Homo sapiens: one gene and its partners. The protein of the gene in region 1 binds, or shares a complex with, the protein of each later gene. Each region holds a gene or a part of one and is shown in the gene's direction. Other genes may lie near its edges.

Region 1 (4,361 bases):
GCCAGTATTTATTATTATTCCACCACATCCTTCCCTGCTTTGGATAGGGTACCTCCAATCACTTTTTGGAGTTCTGACACTTCCTAGACTACCTAATTGTTTTTCTAAGCCAGCTTTCTTAGCTCTGTTAGCTTTCCCAGCTGCTGAATTTTTAGAAGTTAACTCTCCTGGGGGGGAGGGGGGCGAGGGGCGGGGGCGGCGATGGCTCATGCCTGCATTCCCAGCACTTTGGGAGGCCAAGGCGGGCGGATCACTTGAGATAGACCAGCCTGGCCAACATGGTGAAACCCCGTCTCTACTAAAAATACAAAAAAAATCAGCAGGGTGTGGTGCTGTGCGCTTGTAGCCCCAGCTACTCGGGTGGCTGAGGCACGACAATCACTTAAACCTGGGAGGCGGAGGTTGCAGTGAGCTGAGCTCTCTCCACTGCACTCCAGCTTGGGCGATAAAGTGAGCCTCTGTCTCAAGAAAAAAAAAGAAGAAGAAGAAAAAAAGAAGTTAACTCTCCTTCCCAGTGATTGCACATTGTTGAATGACCTACAGTGGCTTGTACCTGAGACCACCCAAAAGACAACACAGTGATGCATTTTGTATTTCAGATGCCCATGCCTTAACTTGAATAATATTTTCAATTTATTGTCCACTTGTATTTAAATGGAATTTTGTACTACTCATCATATCCCTAACTTGGTCATGGTTTGTTCATGGTGCCTGGAGCTAGTCCGAGAAAGAAGTGGCTATTGGTAATACATTCATGCATCCCTCTTATAACTTTGAAGCCTCCCTTGTCGAATTTCCCTACTTTTCTGTTTATCTGAGCATGGGAGGGTGGTGGAACAATAAAGCCAGAGAGCATACTAGTTTCAGCAAACTCCCAGACTTAAACTTTTTCTCAGTATGTACATTTCCCAAGTGGACATTGGAAGAGACATTTGAATACCTACAACAAAGTACAAACTTTAAGCATGGATTATAGCTAGCCTTTATATAATAAAGTTAATAAGTCTTTCCTAGTGAACAGATACCAAAAACGGGGTATGGGCTGCCTTGGCCTTGGGACATATTAACTCCTGTGGAATGGGTTAGCTAGTGGGGAGGAGGAACTCGGTGACTCATGTTTAACCTGTCTTTCAGCCTAACTTATAAATGGGTGGAGCTAGACAGAGTTCAGCACTTCCACCTGAAAAGTTACCCTGTGAGTCCTTCCTGAAATAGTTTGTCAGGATAGCTTTATTTTAGACCTGGCTACAGGAGCCTCTGTAGTAGAATGCAGTGCTTGCATGTCTAGGGGCTAAATTTCTCTGTGGAGGCCAACACCTCCAAGTTTTCTTTAAACCAGAATGTGGTTTACTACGTGGCTCTCTAATTAAATAACCAGGTGACTTTCAAAGCTGTGCCTTGAAAATTGGCAGAATGTGTTCACCCATATACTTAATTAGGCAAGCTGAGGAACAGATTTGGGACAGGAGAGAGTGGTTTGAATGTGTGATGAAGGCATATGGCATATTCAGTAATTAGGGTTGATTTTGTAAGTTAAAAGAACTGCACCTTCAGGGACAGATTTCCTTTTGCAGTGCCTGCAAAGGAACTAGTATTTTTTTCATCTCACTCAATGAGGAAGTGTTTTCAAGCTGTTCCACAGGTTAACATGGAGTGAAGACTAATAGGGGGTGGCATCTGATAGTGTTGTCTTGATGTACTAAGACTTGGAAATCTTAGTATTTCCAAGAAGTAGGAGTTAATAGGTGAGACAACGCTGCTGTTGTATTCCTTGATGAACAAGTTGACAAAATGGCATTATAGGAAGTTCTATGTAGGCAGAAATTGGAGTAATCAGCAGAAATCTACACTCCCCGTTTTTTATTTAATTTTAGACTTGGAACTTATTAAGTAGCAGACACTGTCCTAGGTTCTGGATATGTAGCAGTGACCAAGAACCTTGAGGATCCAGTGTACTCATACAGAGCCTTTCATAGTTTAGCTTAATGAGTCTCTCATGTTCCATCTTATTCATGTTCAGTTTTTCATGTACACCTTGGAATCCCCAAATTCTCTGTCTCTGAGTCTTTACACATGCTTATCGTATTTCCTGAATGACCTTTTCCCCTTTCGATATGGATAATTCCTACTTGTTCTTTAAGACTCAGCTTCAAGACCTACTTCTTTCTGTATGTCCCAAACCCTCTTTTCCAGTAACACTTGTTTATGACATTGTTGTAGCACTTAGACATTTCTTCTTTACCCAAGGACAGAGTCCTCAATGCCTTGTCTGTTGTGTAATGTATATATCTCCCCACCGTACATAGACACTGCCTTTAGTAAAGACCATGACTGTACTTTTTCTCTTAGCTTCATACTTCCTCATTTTCTCTGTAAGCATTTTTCTTTTTTCATCTTCTTTTACTATTGTTTTGAGATGGGATCTCACTATGTTGCCCAGGCTGGGACTCTAGGCACATGCCACTGCACCCAGCTTTTCTCAGCCACTGAATATAAATATCAATTATGGCCCTAGCCTAAATGGAACCTTCCCCCAGCCTCCTATATACAGTGACAGAATGAGGGGGAAACATGGGCAGATTTGGTAGAATCAGTAGGATTTGGTGACTTACAGGGAGTAAGGAAAAGGAAATTGCCACCTGGGAAGCTTTGTAAGTCATATCTTAGAAGAAGAGCTGGTTTAAGATGGGGAGAAGGAAATAATTAGTTCCACTGTGGATTTCTTTAGTTCAGATGGCCTTTGGCACATCCACTTAGAGGTTTCCTGTAGCAAATTGGACATCATGATTTGGAACTCTAGAGAAGATTGGCTGGAGTAAAAAGTTGTTTTCGCATGTTAATTAAAGCTATGGGGATGGAGATGATCTTCCACAGATAATATGGAGAAAGAAAAGATAAGGACTATTCATTCATCCATTTAACAAATATGTATTGAGAGCCTCTAGTGTTGGGAATGTAGCAATGAACAAAACATAAATTCATGAGCAAATACTAAACTCTCAGGCATAGTAAATATTAAAGGGATGGACAAATGAAGGTGGTGTCCCTGTAAGTTGACAAGTGAGAACTTCAAGAAGGGGATTAGGTGCCAAATGCTAGAGCAATGTCCCATAAAAGAAGGAAGCTGCCCCTGGATTTAGCAACAAGAAAAAAAGTTACTGTGTAACATTGGTAAGTGCTGTGGAGTAGTGGGAAGGGAAAGCTGAATTACAGTGGGTAGGAGAGGTTAAGAATTAGAGACATCAGGCTGGACATGGTGGCTCACTCCTGGAATCCCAGCACTTTGGGAGGCCCAGGTGGGCAGATCACTTGAGGTCAGGAGTTTGAGACCAGCCTGGCCAACATGGCGAAACCCCATCTCTACTAAAAATACACAAAATTAGCTGGGCATGGTGGTGCGCACCTGTAATCCCAGCTATTCAGGAGGAGGCTGAGGCATGAGAATCACTTGAACCTGGGTGGTGGAGGCTGTGATGAGCTGAGATCATGCCACTGCGCTCCAGCCTGGGTGACAGTCAGACTCTGTCTCAAGAAAAAAAAAAAAGAAAAAAAAATTAGAGGCATCAAGTGTGAACTTACATATCACAAAATAGCTGTGTAGGGATGAGACAGTAAAACTAGAGAGGGGACAGGATAAAGGGAATTTGCCCCATAAATATCATAATTTATTTTTAAATGAATCATTAAAAAGTTCAACATGTAGAATTTTTCTTTAAAACCAACTTAAATAGAAATCAATACTGTACTGTAAATCAAGAGACAGCTTATTGAAATGTTGAAACTAACAAAAATAGACAAATTTCTATTCTCATAGATCCTGCATTCTGTTGAAAAGAAGCACATTGGGGAATCTTCCTATGCGTAAAAAAATTAATAGTATTTCCAAATGATTGGATCACTTAACTCTTTATTTGGTTACTTAAACAGCCTAAAATAGACTAGCTTCATGATACAGGAAATGAATGGGGGTAATACTACCTCCCAATTTATAATGTGAGGTTTTCAGTATAGATAATGGTGTCACTGGGTTCATTAAAATGTCTTTTTTTTTTTTCACTCCTCTGTGTCTTACTGTCTTAAAGTGTCTGAAAATTTGGGCTGTCTACTCTCCACACAGAGTTGCAGACCAGTCAAATGCTTTTATATTACTTACTTCTTACAGAAAACAATGTCCAGAACTGTCTGCACAACTTCTAGCCCTGTACTTGAACCTGGCAATCTAGTCATTCAAATGGTTATGAGTCAGCACACCTGGCATATGCAATGACTATGAAGCAAAAGGGAGGACAGCTCTGCAACTCTTTATTTGTAATTTTTGGAGCCAGAAGTGTTTTGATTTCAGTATCTTGTAGATTTTAGAA
Region 2 (4,361 bases), on another chromosome or scaffold:
ACAGAGCTTGGACAGATGCCAGAGGCTCTGTTCCAGAGTGCAGGAAGAAGGGGCTAGGGCAGGGGAGATTCTCATAGGGGAAATAAAACTACTAAAATATGCACAGGGCTCAATGTTTAATCTGTCCAGCTTCGTATACCTTATAATCATCACAGAAGAAAGGAGGTATATAAACATTACTTATCTCACCTCTCATCATTTCCAAACAGGAGACTGAGGCAGATTTCCATTATTACTGAGGTTCCCTTACCTACTTCTGTTTAAGAAACAAAACAACTGTACCATAGATCAGTGCTACAAATCGCAAATAAATATGCAGTGAGGAGGAAGGCATAGAGAGAGAGGGTCTGGAGGGGAGGGGGTGTAACAAAGAGACTCCCACAACTGGCTTCCTCTTCAAACCCCAAGGAAAGCCTTCTTCCATCTGTTCCCCTCACCACAGGCTGAGCAGAACAGGTCAGAAGGGTGAACTGGTAGAATGGAGAGTTCAGGTCCCTACAGTGCTGCTTTTTCTCAGAGTCAAGAATTGTGAAAAAGTTACAGGGAATTGGTTTGTCAAGACTGAGCCCATTCAACAGGAATGGGGTACCAAAAAAAAAAAAAAAAAGAATCAGCCCAAATCTGTCACTTTGAGATTGGAGAAAAGGCCAACAGTCATCCATTCTCTGTGGTGGGCTATATCACCGATTGCCTCATCCTCAATAACATGTTTGGCTAACAAGGTGGGGAAAGTGGAGAACCAGCAGTCACTGGCTCACTGTTCCCGGGTTCTCCTCACCCCAGGGCTATAGAAATTCCATTTTTCAGCTAAGAGTGGGAAGAAATAAAATATAGCAAATAAATATTACTTCAATATTAGCACCAAATAAATTATGTCACATAGTTGGAGATGAGGAAGAAGCTGAGGGGGAGTCTCTGCTTCCCTGTTCTAAGGCCAGGGAAAGGTAAAAAGGATAGGAAAGGCAACAAGGATATAAAAAGAGCCTTTTGAGTCTAAAGGACTCAACTCTAGATTCAGCCCAAGAACTGGGAAAGGTCCAGTTCCCATTCCCTAATCTTGCCAATAAAACTGCCCCAGGCCAAGGAATTTTTGGCAGACAAGGAGGCTGGGGAGGATGGCTGGAGTGGAGGGAGGCAGGCTCATAAGCCATGTTCTTGAGCCTCACCTCAGGCTCCTCTCCCCCTGAAGTTTCTCTTTCAACATCTTGCTTCTCTCAGTCAGTTCTGGGGACATCAGAGTTTGAAGATTTCATCCTCCTGGTCCCGTAGTGTCCGGGTCCGAGAGGTACGGGTCAGCGGCACAGGACCTAGGACTGCTCGTTGCTGCATCCAAGGGGAGCTCAGGTGGAGACCTGCATCCTCCCCAGGTACCCTGCAATTGAGGAAAGGGGGGAAAGAGTGACAGATCAAGGGAAGAACCTGACAATGGGCCAAGTGAGAGGTACATGGAAAGCTATCTTCTAATACATAAGCTGGTTGCTTCAAGACAGTCTCAGTACCCTCTAGATAAATCCTAACCCTAATGCTCCTTCATGGATGATCAGAGCAGTAAAAACAGTTAACTGTCAGCTGGCCGCTGTGGCTCACGCCTGTAATTCCAGCACTTTGGGAGGCCGAGGCTGGCGGATCACGAGGTCAGGAGATTGAGATCATCCTGGCTAACATGGTGAAACCCCGCCTCTACTAAAAATACAAAATATTAGCCGGGCGTGGTGGCGGGCGCCTGTAGTCCCAGCTACTCGGGAGGCTGAGGCAGGAGAATGGCGTGAACCTGGGAGGCGGAGCTTGCAGTGAGCCAAGATCGCGCCACTGCACTCCAGCCTGGGCAACAGAGCAAGACCCCGTCTCAAAAAAAAAAAAAAATAGTTAACTGTCTGACTCCAATAAGAACACAGAACCCAGTTTTCCACTGCCTCTACCCAGGCCAGCAGCCATCACCTCTGCTCATTATCTTGGGGCCACATGGGGGAAAGGTATCACCTTGCCTCTGTTGGCACTGTCCTTACTTACTTGTGTTTGTGGTTAGGTAAGACAGGAATGATGGAGGAGTCTAGGGAGGAACTTATAAGGAACCATTCAAGACTCACCCATTTTCCCCTTTTTTCAGCTTCTGAGCAGCAGCCTTCTTGGACAGGCTGATCTGTGAATCAAGCTTCTTAAGGAAATCAGAGGCAGAGAGGTCATGGATGGGCGTGGGGGTTTCCTGGCCAGGTGTGGGGAGGACTTCACCATTGGCACGTCCTGCTCCTGTCTCTTGTTTCTTCCTCTCAGTTGAGTGTGGCCAAACTTCACTGTTACTTGGGTGTACTTTTTCCTCTCCATCTTTCTCTTCCTCAGAGTCCAAACCATTGAACAGGTCTCTGGGCTCTGTCAGGATGGGGATGTAGAGGGTTTTCTTCAGGAAGATGGAGTCATTAGTATAAAGGCGGTTTGCACGTTTAATCTGTTCCATCTTAAAAAAAAAAGTCACCAAAATTAAGGACAGTAATAATGATCAATCTTACATCTTGAGCTTTTTAAAGTGACTGTACAGAGTCTTCTTTGATTCCATAACAACCAAGCTAAAGTACAAAGGGCTGACATTATTTCTATTCTATAGATGAGTGGTTTTCACACTTTTTGGTCTTAGGGCCCCCTTACATTTTAAAAAATTATTGTGCAAGCCAGGCGCAATGTCTGATGCCTATAATTCCAGCTACTCAGGAGGCTGAGGAGGGAGGATAGCTTGAGCCCGGGAATTAGAGTCCAGCCTGAGTAATATAGTGAGACGCCATTTCTAAAAATTAAAAAATTAAAAATAAATGAATAAATAAATTAATGAATAAATAAAAATGAAGGAACTGAGGCTCAGAGAGGTTAAGCTACTTTCCTAAAATTATCTATCAAGTTAATGACAGAGCTAGAATGACAATCCTGGGTCTTTTCACTGCTTCTGAGAATGCTTTTCACACTATACTATTAACAATGTCATTAATAAATATTTATTTTGACCTATTTATTCATCACTGGACATAGTGACTGGCATCACCATCTATCTGCCTGGCCTCCCAAGGTAGAAACATCAATGTCATCCTTAACTAATACTTGCCTTTCATCACCATACCAAGTGGTCAACAAAACTGCTTCAAAAATCTCTCTCACATCTGGTCTCACCTTCCTACTGCCAAAGATTTAAAATAGACCCTCAGTATTTCTCATCTGGGGTTATTGCAACAGTTTAACTGGCCTTCCTCGCTCTATTTCTACTCATCCTCCTCTTGGCATCTATCTTTCTAAAAAAATAAATCTGATTAACCCACTACCCACCTATGGCTCCGCACTGGCTAAAAGATAAAAACCAAATTAGCATTCAAGGGCTTTCTCAATCCAGCTCCCAAAGGAAATGTCTAGATTAATCTCCCTCTGCCACCTCTACATTTTGCTATCCTGAACTTTTTATTTTTCTTTGAACATTCCATGATCTTTTTCACACTTTATTCATGCTGTTACTTCTGCCTGAAATGCTCCCACCCCCCTACTATCCCATTCTCTGCTTGGAAAACTTGTATTCATCAACTATCACTCCCTTTGTGCTACCTTCTTCAGGGCTCCCAATGCATACTGTAAATATTGCTATAATAATACATAACCCTACTATAATATTATTCACCTCTTTAAATATCTGCTTTGCCTAAACCCTATAAGTCCTTTAAGGGCAAGGATTGTGACTTGCTGTCTCTGTATCCCCAGGAAGTCATTAGCATCCTACAGACCTTGACACATAGCAGGGGCTCATTAATGCTTTATTTAAAAACTATTACTTATAATTATGTAATTATTATCATAATTAGATAATGAAATATAGAAACTACAGATATAGTGTATTCGTATTTTCTTTCTTTCTTTCTTTCTTTTTTTGGAGACAAGGTCTCACTCTGTCGCCCAGCCTGGAGTGTAGTGGCGCGATCTCGGCTCACTGAAACCTCCGCTTCCCCAGCTCAAGTGATCCTCTGCCTCAGCCTCCCCAGTAGGTGGGATTACAGGCACATGCCACCATGCCCGGCTAATTTTTGTATTTGTTGTAGAGATGGGGTTTCACCACATTGCCCAGAATGGTCCTGTACTCCCGAGCTCAAGCAATCCACCCACCTCAGCCTCCCAAAGTGCTGGGATTACAGGCATGAGCCACCACGCCTGGCCCACCACAGCCCCTTTCCAACTGAAATTTAATCTTTTCTGATTTCCTATCTTTGTGTGTGTGTGTGTGTGTGTGTGTGTGTGTGTGTCTCACTCTGTTGCCCAGGCTGGAGTGCTGGAGTGCAGTGGTGCGATCTCAGCTCATCGCAACCTCCCCCTCCTGGGTTCAAGCGATTCTCCCGCCT
Region 3 (4,361 bases), on another chromosome or scaffold:
GTAACAGTCATTTCACTGGTGACAGATTTTTTTCCCTTGTTTTTTGTTTGTGTGTGTCAAATTGGACTCATGAATTTTTATTTTTCAGTATTTTATAATCTCACATCATTATTCTTTTTAATGCTCAAATGGCTCTGATTTTTTGCCCATATTAAAAAAAAAATCTATCTGGCTCTTCCATGGAAGGAATATTTGACTGTGGTACCCAGATTAGGTCATGATCATAAACTGCATTTTAAGTCTTTACAGAACAAACAAGAAAAGCCAAACAACTAAATAGAACCAGGCCCCTTAAGGGTAGAACAGCAGAGGGGCTTTTTTTTTAAAGATGCAGTTTTGTTCTTGTTGCTCAGGCTGGAGTGCAATGGCGTGAGCTAAGCTCACTGCAACCTCCGTCTCCCGGGTTCAAATGATTCTCCTGCCTCAGCCTCCCGAGTAGCTGGGATTACAGGTGCCCACTACCATGCCCAGCTAATTTTTGTATTTTCAGTAGAGACGGGATTTCACCATGTTGGCCAGGCTGGTCTCTAACTCCTGACCTTAGGTGATCCACCCACCTCAGCCTTTCAAAGTGCTGGGATTACAGGTGTGAGTCACCACGCCCACCCAGCCACCAGAGGGGCTTTGACCTTGCAGTAGAGGAAGTTGTGATCACAGAGAGGATGATGTCATAGTGGGAGGACTCCTGGCAGGAAAGGGCCTTATAGATATTGCCAGTTTTCTGCTGTCATCCATAATGTGTCCTGAAAAGTTTGTATCAAAGGTAAATGTGTAGAAACTAAGTGAGACACAGCATGGTGAAGAGAGGTTAGTACCAGAAAGCCAAACATCCCTGATTACATTTGCCTTACAGAAACACTCTGATGCTGTAGTCCTAACTTTTTATAATCAGTTTTTCTCCCTTCCTCAAACTACAGTCATTCCGTTTAAGACCAAAGAACATCTAACTGGGGCTGAAGATTGCCTCCTGTTGGCCCCCTCACTGGTTTCTATCTTTGTCTGAATTGTTTTCGGTTTGAGTCCTGTGCTTCTAAATGCTGGATTAGCCTTTTATTTTCCCCCTTTCCACTAATTTGAATAAAATGGCAAGAGTAAAATATAAGCTACGCAGACATCTCCCTAGTGCATCTATATTAACAAAGATGATAATGCTGCCTAAGAGGACTTTCCAGCTGGATTCTGCTGCAGGAAGATACGATGTGGGGTCAGCATGTAGCATCCAAAGAGGCCCAGATTTGAGTATGTCATTGTTTTGGTTGTGCATTGCAGAGGGAAGGTAGAGGGTGCATCCTGAGGTTCTCATGCCTGCCTGTCAGGGGATTTTTCCCTTGTAGGGATTGGTAGAGAAAGGGGTTGCTCCTCCAGCAAGATGAGGATTCGACTGTCCTTTCCCAACTCAGGTCCCTGAGCTGCGGAAGAAATCTCGCCGAGAGTACCTGGCTAAGCGGGAGCGAGAGAAGCTTGAGGACCTGGAGGCGGAGCTGGCTGATGAGGAGTTCCTTTTTGGGGACGTGGAGCTGAGCCGGCACGAGCGGCAGGAGCTCAAATATAAGCGGCGAGTGCGGGATCTCGCCCGGGAGTACCGGGCAGCTGGGGAGCAGGAGAAGCTGGAGGCCACCAATCGCTACCACATGCCCAAGGAAACCCGAGGACAGGTGAGGTGAAGCGGCGTCTGCTTCAGCCTTGGTCCCCAAGACAAGTTGTGGGGAAGGCTTCAGGGGATTGGGCAACACGTGGGTCATCCCCTTTCTTGCCTTGCCGTTCCCAATGGGCAGTGGGCGGGGGTAGTAATGGGAAGAGGGGAGAGGGCAGAGAGGACATCCTGTTTTTGAGTCTTCACATATCCCCTCTCTCTGTAGCCAGCCCGAGCTGTGGATCTAGTGGAGGAGGAATCAGGAGCCCCTGGGGAGGAGCAGCGGCGCTGGGAGGAGGCGCGGCTTGGGGCAGCGTCCCTGAAGTTTGGGGCCCGAGATGCTGCCTCTCAGGAGCCCAAGTATCAACTGGTGCTGGAGGAGGAGGAGACCATTGAGTTTGTCCGGGCCACTCAGCTCCAGGGTGATGAGGTAAGAGGGGAGCTGGGAGACTTTCTGAGGAAGACCCGTAGCGAGCTATTTAGCTCACACCTCCTTCTCTTTCCTTAGGAGCCGTCAGCTCCACCCACTTCAACTCAGGCCCAGCAGAAAGAGTCCATCCAGGCCGTCCGCCGCAGCCTCCCGGTGTTCCCATTTCGAGAGGAGCTCCTGGCTGCTATTGCAAATCACCAAGTCCTCATCATTGAAGGCGAGACAGGCTCAGGGAAGACCACCCAGATCCCGCAGTATCTCTTTGAGGAGGTACAGTCATCTCACCCTTCAGCTTGCCAGGGCACCTGGCATCAATGTCCTCATTCCTGTCAGAGCTCCTTTTACATTATATTTTTAGTAGTCACTTACCTATCTTTTCCACTAAATTGTGAAATTCTTGAGAGTAAAGACCATACCCTTTTCACATTTCTGTTCTCACTTCCTGCATTCATTTCATTTGGAAGGACGGGTAGATGGATAGGTGGAGTGGGGCGTGTATAAATGTGGACCTCCCTATGCTCCAACGTGGCCAAAAAACAAGGAGTTAAAGGACTATTTTCCTGCCTTTTTGTTAGTTTTTTTTTTTTTTTTTTGGAGACGGAGTCTTGCTCTGTCACCCAGGCTGGAGTGCAGTGGTGCGATCTTGGCTTACTGCAACCTCTGACTCCTGGGTTCAAGGAATTCTCCTGCGTCAGCCTTCAGAGTAGCTGGAATTACAGGCATGCGCCACCACACCTGGCTAATTTTTTAGTAGAGATGGGGTTTCACCATGTTGGCCAGGCTGCTCTCGAACTCCTGACCTCAAGTGATCCAGCCACCTCAGCCTCCCAAAGTGCTGGGATTACAGGTGTGAGCCACTGTGCCTAGCCCCTGCCTTATTTTGGAGACAGGCTCTTGCTCTGATGCCCAAGCTGGAGTGATGTGGCACCATCATGACTCACTGCAACCTGGGACTCCTGGGCTCAAGAGATCATCCCACCTCAGCCTCCTGAGTATCTGGGAGGTGCACACCACCATGCCCATATTAAACATTTTTTGTTTTTTTTTGAGGTGGAGTCTTGCTCTGTCACCAGGCTGGAGTGCAGTGGCGCGATCTTGACTCACTGCAACCTCCACCTCCTGGGTTCAAGTGATTCTCCTGCCTCAGCCTCCTAAGTAGCTGGGACTACAGGTGCGTACCACCACACCCAGCTAATTTTTGTATTTTTAGTAGAGATGGGGTTTCACCATGTTGGCCAGGATGGTCTCAATCTCCTGACCTCGTGATCTGCCCACCTCAGCCTCCCAAAGTGCTGGAGTTACAGGTGTTAGCCACTGTGCCTGGCCTGAAATTTTTTTTTTTTTTTTTTTGAGACAGAGTCTTGCTCTGTTGCCCAGGCTGGAGTGCGGTGGCATGATCTTGGCTTACTGCAACCTCTGTCTCCCAGGTTCAAGCGACTCTCCTGCCTCAGCCTCCCAAGTAGCTGGAAATACAGGCATGCACCACCATGCTCGGCTAATTTTTTGTATTTTTAGTAGACGGGGTTTCACCATTTTGGCCAGGCTGGTCTCGAACTCCCAACCTCAGGAGATCCGTCTGCCTCGGCCTCCCAAAGTGCTGGAATTGCAGGTGTGAGCCACTGTGCCTGGTCAAAATTTTGAATTTTTAATTTTTTTGTCACACTATGTTGCCCAGGCTGGTCTCGAACTCCTGAGCTCAAGCCATCCTCCCACCTCAGCCTCCCAAAGTACTAGGATTACAGGCATGAGCCACTGTGCCCAGCCTTCCTGCTTTTTTACCTTAGCTGGCTCTGTCTCAGCTAATCTGTTCTTTTCCAGCTCAAGTCTAGCAGAGTCATGAACTTAATTACCCAGAGCTGGGTGAGGACCCCCTTTGAGGGCCCTAGGTCTGTCATCCTATCTATTTGCCCTTCTTTTCTGGTTTTCAGCATCTGTCTTTTCCTCCTTTTCTCCTGCCTGGTTTTTACAACTTCTTTCTCTGAAATGTACCTGGTCCCAGGGTGCATATTTAGTAAAGGGCAAACTTCTTCTTTTTTCTTTGTCATTCAGGGTTATACAAACAAGGGTATGAAGATTGCCTGCACCCAACCCCGGAGAGTGGCTGCCATGAGTGTGGCCGCCCGAGTGGCCCGGGAGATGGGTGTGAAGCTTGGGAATGAGGTGAGATTTCTAGGGAACCGGGGGGTAGAGTCTGGGGTCTGTGACTCAGTCTACAGTTCCCTCAGGTCCCTACAGCAGAAGTCTTGGTGCTGCCCCACTTCACCTTTCCCCAAGTTCCTTTCAGGGCACACCAGCCCA
Region 4 (4,361 bases), on another chromosome or scaffold:
CTTTTTTTTTTTGAGATGGAGCCTCGCCCTGTCGCCCAGGCTGGAGTGCAGTGGCGCAGTCTCGGCTCACTGCAACCTCTGCCTCCTGGGTTCAAGCGATTCTCCTGCCCTAGCCTCCCGAGTAGCTGGGATTACCGGCGCCCGCTGCCACACCCAGCTAATTTTTTGTATCTTTAATAGAGACGGAGTTTCACCATGTTGCCAGGCTGGTCTCAAACTCCTGACCTCAGGTGACCCGCCCACTTCAGCCTCCCAAAGTGCTGGTATTACAGGCTTACAGGATTACAGGATTACAGGTGAGCCACCATGCCCAACCACTCTTATTTTTTTTTGAGGCAGAGTCTTGCTCTGTTGCTCAGGCTGGAGTGCAGTGGTGCAATCTCCACTTCCCGGGTTCAAGCAATTCTCATGCTTCAGTGGCCTGAGTAGCTGGGATTACAGGCATGTGTCACCATATCCAGCTAATTTTTGCATTTTTAGTAGAGACGAGGTTTTGCCACATTGACCAGGCTGGTCTTGAATTCTTGGGCTCATATGATTGTCTGCCTCGATTTCCCAAAGTGCTGGGATTACACGCTTGAGCCACCGTGCCTGGCCTACGCTCTTAAAAATTACTGATGACCTCAAAAAGCTTTTGTTGATGTGGATTATATATATTGATATTTACCATATTATAAATTAAAACTCAGACATTTAAAAAGTATTTATTCATTCAAAAAAAAATAAACTAATTATGTTAACATAATTACTGTATATTTAAATGAAAAATAATTACATTTTCCAAGTGAAAAAACAGAAGGATGGCATTGATTTACATTTTTGCAAATCTCATTAATGTCTGACTTAATAATAGGTAACTTGACTCTGTATTTGTCTGTTGTGATTTGTTCAGTTGAAGTATAGAAAGAAAATTTAGCCTCACACATAGGTAGTTAGAAAGAGAAGGCATATTATATTTCTTAATGTTACACAAAAACTCAACAAGTGCTGGTTTCTTAAAGGTGAGCTATGTGGAACCTGAAACCAGATCAAAGAACTTTCCTTACTGTTATATTAATTTTTTTAATACTTTGAGTGGATCTTTTACCCATGCATGATTTTATAACATCATGCATTGGTCATTTGTAAAATATTGGTTTGCTGAGTTGTTCAGACCTTCCAAATGTTGACATATTTCCACTATACAATATCAGAAAATCACTTTTGTTAACATCACTTCCGGTCTTATCACAAAACTCTTTAAATAATGGGAAGTTAAAGAGTTCACAGTTTTTCAGAATTCTAATTTACACTTGAAAGTTTAAATGTTATCACTGGCATTTCCATTGCTTGAGCTATTTCCATTTAATAGCTTAATTTCTCTGCTGAGATTTCCCATCTGTTCATTATGAGATATTTTCCTCTTCTTGAAAATATTTGTGATATGTAATTGGTGCTTTGAAGTCCTTCCTGTCTGTTAATTGCAACATTGGATTCACCACAGGATTGGTTTCTATATTGGCAGCTTTTTCTTCAGTGTGTATTACATTTTCCTGTTTATTTACCTGTCTGGTCACTTTTTTAAATTGTTACTGGACATCATGAATGATATACTGTAGAGACTTTGAGTTCTGTTACACTGTATTGTCAGTTGTTTTCCTTCAGGTAAAGCTCACTTTGTACAATAGCTTTTTATAGATTCCATCAGATTTTGTACCTAGAGGGTCTTCCATCTTTGCATACAGTTTAATTTCTTACTTTACAATCTAGATGCTTTTTGTTTCTTTTCCTTGCCCTGTTGCATTAGCTAGCACTTCAGTGCAGATGTTGAATAGAAGTAGTGAGAGCAGACATCTTTGCTTTGTTCCTAATCTCAGGAAGAAAACATTTAGTTTTTACAACACATTTATTAAATGTGTTGTAGCTGTATAGGTTTTTTGTAGATATCCTTTATGGAGTTAAAGTTCCCTTCTATTCCTGTTTTGCTGAGAGTTTTGTTTTCAGGAATGTATGTTGGATTTTGTTCAAAATATTTTCTAATTATCCTTTTGGTTTATTCTTTGCTCCATGGGTTATTTAGGAGTGCATTAATTCCAAATATTTGGACTTTTCTAGATATCTTACTGCTATTTACTTATAATTTAATTCCATTTTGGTCAGATAATATACTGTAATATTTTGATCTTTTGAAATTTGTTGGCCAGGCACAGTGGCTCATGCCTGTAATCCCAACATTTTGGGAGCCCAAGGCAGACGGATTGCTTGAGCCTAGGAGTTTGAGACCAGCCTGGGCAACATGGCAAAACCCTGTCTCTACAAAAAAATACAAAAATTAGTCGGGCATGGTGGCACACGCCTATAGTCCCAGCTACTGTGGAGGCTGAGGTGGGAGGATCACTGAGCCCAGGGAGGTCGAGGCTGCAATGTGCTGTGATTGCACCACTGCACTCCAGCCTGGATGACAGAGTGAGACCATGTATCAAAAAACAATAATAAAAATGAAATTTGTTAAGGTGTGTTTTATGGCCCAGTGGATAGTCTATCTTCTGAATGTTTCCTTTGCACTTGAAGAGAACGTATATTCTGTAGCTATATAAGGTAGTGTTTTATAAAAGTCAGTGAGGTCAAGGTGTTTAGATCTTAGATCGCCTGTATTCTGGGTTTTTTGTGTTTGTATTTTTCTATCAGTTACTATCAATTGTGGATTTTTTGTTTTAGCTGGTTTATTTTGTTTTTCAACTCTAAAATTTCCATTTAATAGCTTACATTTCTCTGCTGAGATTTCCCATCTGTTCATTATGAGACATTTTCCTCTTCTTGAAAATATTTATGATATGTAATTAGTGCTTTGAAGTCCTGTCTGCTAATTGCAACATTGGATTCACCACAGGATTGGTTTCTATTGACAGCTTTTTCTTCAGTGTGTATTACATTTTCCTGTTTATTTACCTGTCTGGTCACTTTTTAAAATTGTTACTACGCATCATGAATGATACACTGTAGAGACTTTGAGTTCTGTTACACTGTATTCCTCTTAAGTGTGTTAGTTTTTATTCTAGCAGGTAGTTAACATAGCTGAACTCCAAACTGTCTCCTTTGCAGTGGACGGCAGCTACAATCTTTGCTCAGTTCTTTTAGTTTCTAGCTGCCATTTTTTTAATTGGCCTGATGGTATTTTCTCTGCACATGTGTCATTTAACAGTTAGCCAAGGATTTGACTAGGGTTTGTATGTAGATTTTGAGGTTCATCTCTTTTGTAGTTCCTTCTCTTCCAAGATTTCCCCCCTAATTTCCTAGCTGTTCTGCCCACTTTGCACTAATTCCTCAAGCCAGTAAGCCTGTGGCTTTCTGCCTTCATGAGCCATGCTGTTTGGGAAGTTGCCCTCCAGCAAATCTCTTTTCACATATAGACTTCATCCAGTTCATACTTACTTTTGGTCACTCTTCCACACCTTCAAATACCTATTTTTTTTGTTTTGTCTAGGTTTTATAGTTGCTAACTGAGGATAGGTTAGTCTGTTCGGGTTACTCTGCAATGTCTAGAATCTGTCTCCCCACCTTATATGGGCCTAAGGCGTTGTCTTCTGTCCCTCGGGGTGCCGTCAAAATCCAACAGCCAGGTGTGGTGGCGTGTGTCTGTAGTACCAGCTATTTGGGAGGCTGAGGCAGGAAGATCGCTTGAACCCAGGAGTTTAAGTCCAGGCTAGGCAACATAGTGAGACCCCAACTCCAGAATAAAAAAATTTAAGGCTCTTCTTTCTGATATTGGCAGATATCTATAAGTTGACTGTAGTTCCTCATCTTGGCAGATATCTTTAGGGTAGCTGTGGTTACAGGCTAGCTTACTAGTTCCGTTTGCAGTTCACTGTATGTAGGCTTTTTGGTAGAAGGAGGATTTTTCAGAACACTCATTTGCCATACATACAGCCAGAAGTAGATCTTTTTATAGCACAACCCTACAGATGTTCCCTGCTACCGAGTTTTTGTTTTTTGTTTTTTAATTTTTGGACCCAAAACTTAGAATTCTCCCTGACCTAGTTTTTTTTTACTAGTATTTAATTTGTCTTCATTTTTCTCAGTTGCTTTTTTCCACTTCTTGTTCTGATTTTATCCTAGATTTCTTCTCTTATTTCCCTTTGTCACCCTTGCTTTCTTTTTGTTATTCATCTTTCATCATCTTTTCTAGTTTTGTCTCTTTTCGGCCTGCTGCAAGGGAATATTTCCGGAACAGATATATAGTATCTGTTGGAAAAACCCATAAGATAATTACCCAGCCTCTCTTAATTGAAAGAGAAACGGGGCCGGGTGCGGTGGCTCATGCCTATAATCTCAGCACTTTGGGAGGCCGAGGCGGGCAGATCACGAGGTCAGGAGATTGAGAC
Region 5 (3,215 bases), on another chromosome or scaffold:
TTTTTTTTTTTTTCTGGAGACAGTCTTGCTCTGTTGCCCAGGCTGGAGTACAGTGGCGCGATCTTGGCTCACTGCAAGCTCTGCCTCCCGGGTTCAGGCCATTCTCCTGCCTCAGCCTCCCGAGTAGCTGGGACTACAGGTGCCTGCCACCACACCCAGCTAATTTTTTGTCTTTTTAGTAGAGACGGGGTTTCACTGTGTTAGGATGGTCTCGTTCTCCTGACCTCATGATCTGCACGAGGCCTCCCAATGTGCTGGGATTACAGGCGTGAGCCACCGTGCGTCCCCGGCCTATACCTTTCATTAATTAATAAGCTGGGGGAATAAATAACTGGATTTCATTCTTTTCCATCTTCTGACCTGTTGGTGCTCCTATTGCTTGTATCCAAGTAGAAGGCAAAAGGCAAGAGACCCCTGTAATGCAGCAAGTGGAGAGATTTGTTGAAGGGGTCAAACAAAACCCTGCAAGAGTAGGAAATAAACAGTTGGCTCCTGTCCTCGTGGAGCTTATAGACAGAAGCAGATAACAAATAAAAATTGGAGCTTAGTGCCGTGGTGCACACTTGTAGTCCCTGCTACTGGGGAGGCTAAGGCAAGAGGATCGCTATAGCCTGGGAATTTGAAGCTGTAGCGTGCTATGATTGCAAGCAGCCTGGGTAACCTAGTGAGACCTGGCTCTTAAATTTAAAATTTAAATGAAAATGGCCACTTAGCATAAGAGATCTAAAATTACGTTTTGTCCTGGCATGGTGGCTCATGCCTGTGACCTCAGCACTTTGGGAGGCCGAGATGGGCGAATCACTTGAGGTCAGGAGTTCGAGACCAGCCTGGGTAACATGGTGAAACCCTGTCTACTGAAAATACAAAAATTAGCTTGGTGTGGTGGCGGGTGCCTGTAATCTCAGTTACTCAGGAGGCTTAGGCAGGAGAATCACTTGAACCCTGGAGGCAGAGGTTGCAGTGAGCTGAGATCACACCACTGCACTTCAGCCTGAGTGACAGAGCGAGACTGTTTCAAAAAAAAAAAAAAAATTTGTTTTGAGAGTTTTTGTGTCTAGGATGTTTGCAGTGTGAAGCCAGTCTAGTAACAGTTTAAATGTAATAATAAATCACAGTGGGTACTAGATTGAGTTTATTCCACTAGAGGTCATTATTTCATTTCCATGTGAAAGGGCTAAAATTGGGTGAAGAAAAAGCTATTTGAACTGATTACCATCATTTGCTATAAAGGAAGCATTATAGTATGAATAGAAAACAGACTAGAGTTTAACATGCTTCTCTTGACCCCTCTTCACCACCCCCTAAAAGGCAGATGGGATCTTAGGACTGCAGCATTTTGTACACATCTGATATTTAATGAGATGTTACATATGAACTTTAGTTTTTTTTCTTTTCTTTTCTTTTCTTTTCTTTTCTTTTTTTTTTTTTGAGACAGAGTCTAGCTCTGTCACCCAGGCTGGAGTGCAGTGGTGCAATCTCGGCTCACTGCAAACTCTGCCTCCCGGGTTCACGCCATTCTCCTGCCTCAGCCTCCTGAGTAGCTGAGACTACAGGTGCCCACCACTATGCCCGGCTAATGTTTTGTACTTTTAGTAGAGACGGGGTTTCACTGTGTTAGCCAGGATGGTCTGAATCTCCTGACCTCGTGATTCGCCCGCCTCGGCCTCCCAAAGTGCTGGGATTACAGGCGTGAGCCACCGCGTCCGGCCGAACATTAGTTTTTAAAGAAATGTATTATGAATATAGATAGAAAACCCAAAGTGAAGGAATAGAAAATGAAATATCAGTTTCTTTTAATCTATCATAATTATGTGAGCATAACTTAGTATTTTGAAATAGATTAATGTAGTCAGCAAACAATTCATGTATTACCTATAATAGATATCATACATATAACATTTAATAACATACAGTTCTTGTTCCTGAAGACTTAACCTAGAAAATAACTCCATAACAAGAAGAATCTCTGTCATAATAAACCAACAGCAGACATTTTCTAAAGGCATTAAAAGTATATCTGATACTGGCCTTTATTAATGTGAAATTCTTGTGGATCTGTGAAATAAAGAGGAGTACTTTCTTTTCGTTTTTTTTTCTTTTCTTTTTTTTTGAGACAGTCTCACTCCTTCATCAAGGCTGGAGTACAGTGGTGCGATCTTGGCTCACTGCAACCTCTGTGTCCCGGGTTCAAGCAATTCTCGTGCCTCAGCCTCCCGAGTAGCTGGGATTACAGGCATGCACCACCACACCCAGCTAATCTTTGTATTTTTAGTAGAGACAGGGTTTCACCATTTTGGCCAGGCTGGTCTCTAATGCCAGACCTCAAGCGATCTGCCTGCCTCAGGCTTCCAAAGTGCTGAGATTACAGGTGTGAGCCACTGCGCCCAGCCAATAGGAGTACTTTTGAAAAGGAAGATAAATTTTTTTTTTTTGAGACGTAGTCTTGCTCTGTCACCCAGGCTGGAGTGTAGTGGTGCAATCTCAGTCCACTGCAAGCTCCACCTCCCGGGTTCATGCCATTCTCCTGCCTCAGCCTCCCGAGTAGCTGGGACTACAGGCACCCACCACCACGCCTGGCTAATTTTTTGTAGTTTTAGTAGAGACGGGGTTTCACCGTGTTAGCCAGGATGGTCTCGATCTCCTGACCTCGTGATCCGTCTGCCTCAGCCTCCCAAAGTGCTGGGATTACAGGCGTGAGCCACCACACCCGGCTGATAAACTTTGTAATACTAAGTTCTTTCTGTGTGGGAACATAGTAGTGTTCTCTATCTGAACCAGCTTTTCTTCTCAGTGAAGTTTTAGGGTTTTGTTTACGTATTCCATATATTTTGAGAAATGTTAATATACAGTGAGATTCAGTTTATGAAGAAAATAGTAATAATAGCAAGGCTGTAGATACCCAGTGCAGTCAATTCTTGGAATTTTCAGTAGTTGTGTAAAGTTGCTGTTAATACTAAACCACTACTTCTAGGGAAAATATAGGGTTAAGTTCCTGCAAGCCTCTAGTCACATTTTCATCAACCAACCAATACATAACCTTGTTTTATGAGTGTTTCTGTTTAGAGACATATATAGTAGTATATGTAATACATATATACTACTGATTTGTTAATTCATGGCTAGCAGCACTAACTCATCCATGAACAAAGCTTATCTAACACTTATTTTCTCAAAAAGGCACATCATAGCCTTCTTGAATTTAGGAACACGACAGC
Region 6 (4,361 bases), on another chromosome or scaffold:
CAACATGGTGAAACCCCATCTCTACTAAAATACAAAAATTAGCCAGGCGTGGTGGCAGGTGCCTGTAATCCCAGCTATTCGGGAGGCTGAGACATGAGAATCACAGCAACTCGGGAGGCAGAGGCTGCAGTGAGCCGAGATCGTGCCACTGCACTCCAGCCTGGGCGACAGAGCAAGACTTTGTCTCAAAAAAAAAAAAAGAAAGAAAGAAAGAAAGGAAAAGGAATTGAGGTCTGCAAAAGGACCATGAGAAGACTTTGGGATCTGATTTGACCTCTTCACTCTAGAATGTGGGACTGTTTTAAAGCACTAATGCTGTTATATATGAAATTCTGAGAATTACCAGAGGACTTAAAGGTAATAGTCAAAAACATTTTTTATTAGGGACAAGCATAGACCATTTTAAAGTATCAGTTAGTTGACTGTAACCTTCTGTAGTGGGTTTCTTATTCCTCAAGGATTCCAGGATGTAATTTCTCTTAAATATGAACAAAATGAATAACCATTTTAGTACAAGACTTAAAATAGACCAAGGGTGCTGTCATTTTTAGTCATTTGTCTTTTGACTTGACCCTTTTTGCCTTCTTCCAGACTTTTGAAGATAATATAAGAAAAAACAGGACTGTGATTAGTAACTGGATAAAATACGCACAATGGGAAGAAAGCCTAAAGGAGATTCAAAGGTAAAATTACTGAGAGTGTAGTTTTGTATATAATGATTCATAGATTAACAGATACCAAAAAGAAAAGAAGAAAAAGTTAAAGCACAGGTAAAAGATTGTGCCTCGGGTAGAAATTTTCAACTTTGGTTCCATGGAACCCTAGGGTTCCCTTGAGGGCCTCAGGAGTACTGGGGTAGAATAGTCCTGGGGAGGGTGGCAGAAGAGGCTTTAGAGATAGATCTTGTCAGTTGTAGCTAAAGAAGCACAATTTCATTTGCTTTGTATATATTGAGATTTTTACAAATTTCAGCTAAACAATGGCCAAAAAAAATAAAACCAATGGCCAAAAAAAATAAAAATTGCAATCTGGCCCTTCCTGTGGTCTAGCTTTCTGCATTCTCCCCGCATACCTCCTTCCCCCACTGTGCCTGTGTATGTGCCACTCCCTGAATATATCATGTCTCCTTATCGTGAGGCTTGACTGTTCTCCTTGCCTGGAATGAGCACCCCCTCCTCACCAAACTTAGTTTCCTGGTAAATCGGAACGTTCCTCAAGTTCTCATTTCTACAATTACCTACTACTTAGCCTTTTCCACCAAACATTTTCATTTCTTCCTCTCTGTTTCCCGTGCAGATCTTGACTATAACATAAATCACATTGCATTATAATTGCATGCATGTCTTTTTATAAGACTTTGTAAGGTACTTGAGAGCATTATATCTTTTCATTTTTTTATGCCCAGAACTTGGCTCATGGTAGACACCTAATAAAACATCAGTGCATTCCAGATAGTTTGAAATAACTGCTACATGTGTTGAATGCTCTATTTTTGATGCCCTGCAAATCTTGCTTCTTAAGGGCTCGATCCATATACGAGCGTGCTTTAGATGTAGACTACCGAAATATTACACTCTGGCTGAAATACGCAGAAATGGAAATGAAGAATCGCCAAGTCAACCATGCTCGAAATATCTGGGACCGGGCCATAACAACGCTGCCTCGAGTTAATCAGTTCTGGTAAGTTTCTGATCTAACAAAACAGCCTTTTATAGACTAGCAAAGTTCCACATCTTCTGTATTTATTTTATTTACATGATGATAGTTTAATTTGATATCCTACTTTTTCTTCAGACATAAATGCTGTTATGTCCCATAGTCTATTAAGTCATAATCGTAATGTTCTATAGCTATGTAATCAAAACTAAAATTTTGATTGCAATCTTTTATTCATAAGCTTCTTGTTGAACTAGGCAACTTTTAAGAAAAAAAAATCTTTTTTTCCAATGGTTCATCCTTTTTCAGATTTACATACAAATGACAAAACATGTTTGATTTAACCTTTAAGAAAGGTAAAATCTTCAATCTTCTTCCCATTCAACAATGGAAGAACTAAACCACAGCAGATATTTTCGGGTGATTTTGTTACAGGTACAAGTACACGTACATGGAGGAAATGTTGGGAAACGTTGCCGGTGCCCGGCAGGTGTTTGAGCGCTGGATGGAGTGGCAGCCTGAGGAGCAAGCCTGGCACTCCTACATCAACTTTGAGCTGAGATACAAAGAGGTGGATCGGGCCCGCACCATTTATGAGCGATATATCCTTTGGACGAGATCTGTATGGTGCCATGATTGTCCTGGATGCTGCTGCTGCTCCTGTAGAGATGTCTCATGATCAGGACACACAGTCATTAATGTCAGGCTCAAAGTCAAGAATGCCAGTTTATCAGCTTCCCTATGTTTTGTAGGGAAAGAGATTGGTCAGAATGAAAATTTGTATTCTGGGTAACTAGTCTTTTCTAGTGAGAGTTTGGGTTTATTTTATTGTAATGCTAAAAGCTAATGTTTCCTTGTGGAAAATGATATTCCTGGGGGATTGTTTCCAGGAACTCAAGGGGATACCAAAATCGGTGATGCTTAAGTCCCTCATATAAAATGATGTAGTATTTGCATGTAACCTATGCATAGCCTCCCATATAATTCAAATAATCTCTAGATTACTTATACCTAATGCAATGTAAATGTTATATAAATAATTGTTATTCTGTATATTTTAAGGAATAATAAGCAAAAAAACGACATGTTCAATACAGAAGCACTTTTTTCTCACGAATACTTTATCTCAGGTTGGTTGAATCCACAGATATGGAACCCATGGCTGGAGGACTAACTGTACTAAGGTCCTGGCTGCCATTGCCAGTCCTGTTTTTCTAAGGTTTGTGTTGGTCATTACTACCTTACTGGAGTTCATCCAAGGTTTACTGTTTACTAGCTGTGTGGCTCCAGAGAGTCATTTAACTCCTTTGAGAGTTGGTGTCCTCTTCTTAAAAACAAGAATAAAAACACCTTTGTTGGGCTGTTGCGAAGATTAAATGATACACATGAAAGCACTTTTAGAAACTGAAGTACAGTCATTCCTCACTATTTGCAGATTCCATGTTTGCAAAATCACGTATTTGCTAAAATTTATTTGTAACCCCCAAAATCAGTAATTGTGGCACTTTCACAGTCATTTGTGGACATGCACAGAGCATGAAGTCCAACAAGGTGAGGCTTGCCTTCTGGTCTTAACCTCATATAACCATGCCTAGAGCTTGGAGACAGGAAGGGCCAGTGCCATGTAGTGCAAGGAGCTGTGGCTCTGGGGCCAGTCGGGGAGTTTGAATCCCTGTCAGTGGGGCAGCCTCAGTCCAGTCACTTAACATTTCTGAACCACTTTTCTTACAAAATAATGAAGATAGAATCTGCCAGGATGAGTTCTTTTTAGGATTTAAGATGATGATGAATGTGAGATTGTATATATACACGTTTCTCCTAGGAGCAGTGGTTCAGTACTCAATAATTAAGTGTTCGCATTGACTAAATAGAACATAACTACCAGAAATAATGAGAGTCAACTTTATTATGCAGTATTAAGATCTTTTTATTTTTTTACTCTTCTCTGTTGAGGTGACAATGTTAAGATCTTAATTATGTCTACTAATTTTAATATTATTAGTTTGACGAAAGCTTTTATAGCACTTGCTACGTGCCAGGCAGTATTCTAAGTACTTTACAGATATTGTTGTTTAATCCTCATAACATCCTTGCAGTGTAGGAACTTCTCTGTCCTACAGATGAGGGAGCTGAGGCATGAGAGATTAAGTAGCTTGACTGGGTTCTCACAGGTGCTGATGGAAATAGAATGTGAACCTAGTAGAGCAGCTTCAGAACTGATGCTCTTCTTTGCCATATTGGAATATATTACTACTTTGGAAATTAATGATTTATTCAAGGAAGATAGATTAAAATGACAATTCAAAACTTTCTGCTTTGACTCTAGTTAACAGTTTTCTTTTTATAGCATGTTTTTTTCTTAATTATTAGTTCAAGTATTCATATTTTAATATAATTGGTGCTATTTAATGACCAGACCATTATTGACCGCTTACGGTGCCATGTTCTTTTGGCTAGAAACTGTGCTAAGGGCTTTACATACATTTTCTCATTTAAAGCTGGCAGTAATCCAGTGAGGCTGGCATTATTTTTCCCTGTTTACAAATGAAACAGCTGAGACTTAGACGTCTAAGTTCAGTGACTTATCCAAGATCACATGGTTGGTAACCTGGGTTGAGATTTTTCTTTGCTTCCAACTCGAGTTTATACCCACCACTAAAATCTTAACTAAGCACTGGAGGAAAATAGAGATGAACAGGCGTGGC
Region 7 (4,361 bases), on another chromosome or scaffold:
TAGATAGGATTCCCTTGGTTGCCATCCAAAGACAAATACCCAAAACCCTTTGAGGGTGAGCTGTCGCCCCTTGTCCCAGAGAGGTGAGGTGCGGGATGGGATAACGTCCTATCAAGGGAATCACTCATCTGCTCCAGGAATTCTTACCTTCTGGAAAAACATCACGGAATGACAGGAACACCGATCCTCAGCCTCCCAGAGGGTGCCCAGGCAATGTCAGGTGGGGAGAGCCTGGCTGCAGGCCCGGTGCTGTTGTGCCCCCATCACGGATGGCATTAGCTCACACTTGGGGAGCACCCACTGCATGCCAGGCGCTTGCATCTTGTGCATTGGACATAGTACTAAAGTAGATGTGCTTACACCGCCTTCTTTCCAATCAGGACTCTGAGGCTTAGAGAGGTTCTGTGGGCTGGCCAAAGGTTTAAAGAGTACCAGACCTAGGCCGGGCATGGTGGCTGACGCTTGTAATCCCAGCACTTTGGGAGGCCGAAGTGGGCAGATCACCGGAGGTCGGGAGTTCGAGACCAGCCTGACCAACATGGAGAAACCCCATCTCTACTAAAAATACAATTAGCTGGGTGCGGTGGCACGCGCCTGTAATCCCAGCTACTCAGGAGGCTGAGGCAGGAGAATCGCTTGAACCGAGGAGGTGGAGGTTGAGGTGAGCCAAGATCACGCCATTGCACTCCAGCCTGGGCAACAAGAGTGAAACTCCGTCTCAAAATAAATAAAGAGTACCAGACCTGAGACTTAAACCCAGAGCAGTCAGAGTCTACAAGCTAGTCCCTTGGCCCTTTTCCTGCCCTTAGAGGAGTTCCAATTCCTAGGATTGTGGAGCGAAAGCGAGAAAGGAGTTTACTCCAAATTGCTCATTTTATCAATAAGGAAGCTGCGGTGCAGACAGCTGCCCCTCGTCTGGCTGTCGCAGGCCAGGATGAGAATGCAGGCTTCCTTCCGTCTGTCCCTGCAGCCACCACACTCACAGGTACCCTTCCATGCTGGCTTTGCTGTGGCAGCTCTGAGTGAGGTCTGCTCTTTGGCCCAGCACTTCTGCCTCCTCTCTGAGGGCTGGAAGCTGGATGCTATCCAAACAAATGGATTCGCTCACCCTGCACACTAAGGCCAATTACTGACAAAAATCGCAGTGAGAAAGTGAGGCTTTGTTTTTGTTTTTGGTTTTGGTTTTTTTGAGACAGATTCTCACTCCGTTGCCCAGGTTGGAGTGCAATGGTGCAATCTCGTCTCACTGCAACCTCCGCCTACCTGGTTCAAGCAATTCTCCTGCCTCAGCCTCCTGAGTAGCTGGGATTACAAGCACCCGCCACCACACCCAGCTAATTTTTGTATGTTTAGTAGAGACGGGGTTTCGACATGTTGGCCAGGCTGATCTCGAACTCCTCACCTCAGGTGATCCGCCCGCCTCGGCCTCCCAAAGTGCTGGGATTACAGGCGTGAGCCACTGTGCCCAGCCAAAAGTGAGGCCTTTATTGTGGGGCGACAAGCAAGAAGAATCCGGCAGCTCATGCTTAAGACCCAAATTCCCAGATGGCTTATGGTTAAGGGTGTTCAAAGGCAGGAGGCAGAGGTTACAGACAAAGTTTTAAATCAACACCAGGAGGCTATATATTGGTTTGGCCTAAGAAGGCAGGATGTCTCCAAGGGATGGGGCACAGATCATAGGTGGCTTCAAAGATTTTCTGATTTGTGAGTGGTTAAGGAGGTGAAGCTTTGTCTACAAATTTGGCATCAGCAAAAAAGAATGTTAGCTATAACCTGTGGGCATGTCCTCCAGGCCCCTCAGGGAGTCTAAAGAGTGGTCAGAGTGTAGTTTTCAGTTCCCCTTATCTGAGGTCTCAGTGCCAGGGGAATTGTTTGTTGAGGGTCCAGATTTCTGAAAAGCAACTCAAGGACAGATATTAAGATGTTATCTTTAGGCCGGGTGTGGTGGCTCACACCTGTAATCCCAGCACTTTGGGAGGCTGAGGCGGGTGGATCACTTGAGCTCAGGAGTTCAAGACCAGCCTGGCCAACATGGTGAAACCCCGTCTCTACTAAAAATACAAAATCTAGCTGGGTGTGGTGGCAGGAGCCTGTAATCCCAGCTACTCTGGAAGCTGAGGCAGGAGAATCGCTTGAACCCAGGAGGCAGGCAGAGGTTACAGTGAGCCAAGATCGTGCCACTGCACTCCAGCATGGGCGACAAAGCAAGACTGTCTCAAAAAAAAAAAAAAAACAAAGTTATCTTTAGTTTCTATGGGGAAACCAGACATCCCCTGATTCTGACTTCCTTGGCTATTGTTTTAAGCTAACTATTACCTTCTTGCTTATCGAGTTGCTCACTTGCTTCTCAGGGCTAGCTAGGTGCCTGGAATTTCATGAAGGGACTCAAGATTTTCCTTTATTTCCATGCTTGGGGGCCTGCAGGCCCCTAGAGAAGCCCCTGCTCTCTCTCCATGTCAGCCAGGGCTTCAGTCTGGCCTCAAGTGTTCCCATCAGCGGTGGCAGTGGAACTACAGTGGCAGCAACCACTTGCCAACAGGGGCCTGGCCTCACTCACCGTCGTCTCTGTGTGGCGGTCTCTTTCTCCTGTGGCTTCCTCTCAGTTGCCCGCCGTCGGCACCGCCACAGCCATGAGGAAGGATCCGGCTACAGCGACCGCGGAGAACACGCACGGGTTTTCAAGTCTCTGGCCTCTTTTGTGGCCTCTTGTGGATCTGCCCATTTAGAGCAATTGTAGAACTAGTTTATTGACCCTTTCTGTGCTTCTGGCTGCCTTTTCTGCCCAGGGTCCAGGGCTCCTGTTTGGGTGCTGTTGGGATAAAAGCTGCCTCTCCTGGATGCCCGCCCAGTGCACACCATGTGCTCGCCACACGCCCACCTGAACCAGCCTGTCCACAAGGCCTCTGAATCGGTCATGAACGGCAAGGCCGATGGTTCTAACCCCTTTGTACATATCGGGAACCCCCACCACCAAGTGAGGGCAAGTCCACTGCCTGGGGCTCCCGCTGTTAGTGATAACTGGAGCCAGGACTTCGCCCCTGTCATCCAGGATCCAAATTCTGTGCCCTGGGAACCCAGCTGGCACCAGGCTCAGACTCTAGTCCCTTGTTCTGGCCTCAAACTCCTGGGCTCAAGTGATCCTCCGACCCCAGCCTCCCAAAGTGCTAGGATTACAGGCATGAGCCACTGCACCCAGCCCCAGTGGCAGTTCCTCTATGACACTGGTACACTGGACTGTACACTGGTACACTGGTACACTGGACTGGTACACTGGACTATTCACAGGGGATTATTTGTTCTTGGGTTTTCCTTCAGTGTCTTGAAAATGGCTCCTTCAATTTCAAGTCTGAAGGACAGACAGTACATAGAGTAAGCTACCCTTTGTGTGAGAAGGCAGGGTGGAGATGAACACACCTCTGTGTATGCACTCACGCTGGCAAGACACAAAAGTGTAATAAGGAAATGGGTTAGTACGAGGCAGGGAACAAGGTAGAAGGGACCAGAATGGTGGTGAGACTTCTGAAAATACCCTGTGATACAGTTTTTTCTTTTTTTTTTTTTGAGACGGAGTTTCGCTCTGTCGCCCAGGCTGGAGTGCAGTGGCGCGATCTCGACTCACTGCAAGCTCCGCCTCCCGGGTTCACGCCATTCTCCTGCCTCAGCCTTCCCAGCAGCTGGGACTACAGGCACCCGCTACCACGCCCAGCTAATTTTTTTTGTATTTTTTTTTTTTTTTAGTAGAGACAGGGTTTCACCGTGTTAGCCAGGATGGTCTCGATTTCCTGACCTTGTGATCCGCCTGCCTCGGCCCTCTCAAAGTGCTAGGATTACAGGCGTGAGCCACCACGCCCAGCCTGCTGTGAAGACTTTGACCCTGGGCTGCTTCAGCTCAGCATGGGCGAGTCCCCAGATGTAGCTGTATTTTGAGCTGCCCTTGCCGAGGGCCTGCCCAGCCACCAGGTGCCAGGTGCCAGCTAAGCACTTGTCAGAAGCATCACCTCGTTTTGTTTTGTTTTTGAGATGGAGTCTCGCCCTGTTGACCAGGCTGGAGTGCAGTGGCATGATCTGGGCTCATTGCAACCTCCGCCTCCCAAGTTCAAGCCATTCTCCTGCCTCAGCCTCCCAAGTAGCTGGGACTACAGGTGAGTGCCACCATGCCCAGCTAATTTTTGTATTTTTAGTAGAGATGGAGTTTTGCCATGTTGGCCAGGGTGGTCTTGAACTCCTGACCTCAGGTGATCCACCCTCGGCCTCCCAAAGTGCTGGGATTACAGGCATGAGCCCCCACGCCCGGCCAGCATCACCTCATTTAATCCCTGGGACCATCCTTCAACCTTCCCTTCATGGTCCAGGTTGTCCCT

The links.
Region 2: CWC22 (region 1) and TNFAIP8L2-SCNM1 share a complex: the UniProt entries of both Homo sapiens proteins name them as parts of the minor spliceosome.
Region 3: CWC22 (region 1) and DHX16 share a complex: the UniProt entries of both Homo sapiens proteins name them as parts of the minor spliceosome.
Region 4: CWC22 (region 1) and BUD13 share a complex: the UniProt entries of both Homo sapiens proteins name them as parts of the minor spliceosome.
Region 5: CWC22 (region 1) and SNRPD1 share a complex: the UniProt entries of both Homo sapiens proteins name them as parts of the minor spliceosome.
Region 6: CWC22 (region 1) and CRNKL1 share a complex: the UniProt entries of both Homo sapiens proteins name them as parts of the minor spliceosome.
Region 7: CWC22 (region 1) and ARMC7 share a complex: the UniProt entries of both Homo sapiens proteins name them as parts of the minor spliceosome.

Annotation. Positions count from the first base shown.
Region 1 is NC_000002.12:180,000,514-180,004,874, reverse strand, and holds part of CWC22 (pre-mRNA-splicing factor CWC22 homolog), read left to right. Parts: intron 1-4,361. UniProt on the Homo sapiens protein: Required for pre-mRNA splicing as component of the spliceosome. As a component of the minor spliceosome, involved in the splicing of U12-type introns in pre-mRNAs. Promotes exon-junction complex (EJC) assembly.
Region 2 is NC_000001.11:151,159,649-151,164,009, forward strand, and holds part of TNFAIP8L2-SCNM1 (TNFAIP8L2-SCNM1 protein), read left to right. Parts: exon of another isoform or gene 1-1,233; coding exon of another isoform or gene 1,234-1,372; intron 1,373-2,087; coding exon of another isoform or gene 2,088-2,452; intron 2,453-4,361. Other genes in the region: LYSMD1 (lysM and putative peptidoglycan-binding domain-containing protein 1), read right to left, coding at 1,234-1,372, 2,088-2,452. UniProt on the Homo sapiens protein: As a component of the minor spliceosome, involved in the splicing of U12-type introns in pre-mRNAs. Plays a role in the regulation of primary cilia length and Hedgehog signaling.
Region 3 is NC_000006.12:30,662,773-30,667,133, reverse strand, and holds part of DHX16 (pre-mRNA-splicing factor ATP-dependent RNA helicase DHX16), read left to right. Parts: intron 1-320; exon of another isoform or gene 321-1,239; intron 1,240-1,400; coding exon 1,401-1,655; intron 1,656-1,859; coding exon 1,860-2,063; intron 2,064-2,141; coding exon 2,142-2,333; intron 2,334-4,112; coding exon 4,113-4,223; intron 4,224-4,361. UniProt on the Homo sapiens protein: Required for pre-mRNA splicing as a component of the spliceosome. Contributes to pre-mRNA splicing after spliceosome formation and prior to the first transesterification reaction.
Region 4 is NC_000011.10:116,752,163-116,756,523, reverse strand, and holds part of BUD13 (BUD13 homolog), read left to right. Parts: intron 1-4,361. UniProt on the Homo sapiens protein: Involved in pre-mRNA splicing as component of the activated spliceosome. As a component of the minor spliceosome, involved in the splicing of U12-type introns in pre-mRNAs.
Region 5 is NC_000018.10:21,631,441-21,634,655, forward strand, and holds the end of SNRPD1 (small nuclear ribonucleoprotein Sm D1), read left to right. Parts: 3' UTR 1-2,080; downstream 2,081-3,215. UniProt on the Homo sapiens protein: Plays a role in pre-mRNA splicing as a core component of the spliceosomal U1, U2, U4 and U5 small nuclear ribonucleoproteins (snRNPs), the building blocks of the spliceosome.
Region 6 is NC_000020.11:20,045,662-20,050,022, reverse strand, and holds part of CRNKL1 (crooked neck-like protein 1), read left to right. Parts: intron 1-591; coding exon 592-683; intron 684-1,521; coding exon 1,522-1,680; intron 1,681-2,091; coding exon 2,092-2,258; intron 2,259-2,260; exon of another isoform or gene 2,261-2,875; intron 2,876-4,361. UniProt on the Homo sapiens protein: Involved in pre-mRNA splicing process. As a component of the minor spliceosome, involved in the splicing of U12-type introns in pre-mRNAs.
Region 7 is NC_000017.11:75,115,906-75,120,266, forward strand, and holds part of ARMC7 (armadillo repeat-containing protein 7), read left to right. Parts: intron 1-4,361. UniProt on the Homo sapiens protein: As a component of the minor spliceosome, involved in the splicing of U12-type introns in pre-mRNAs.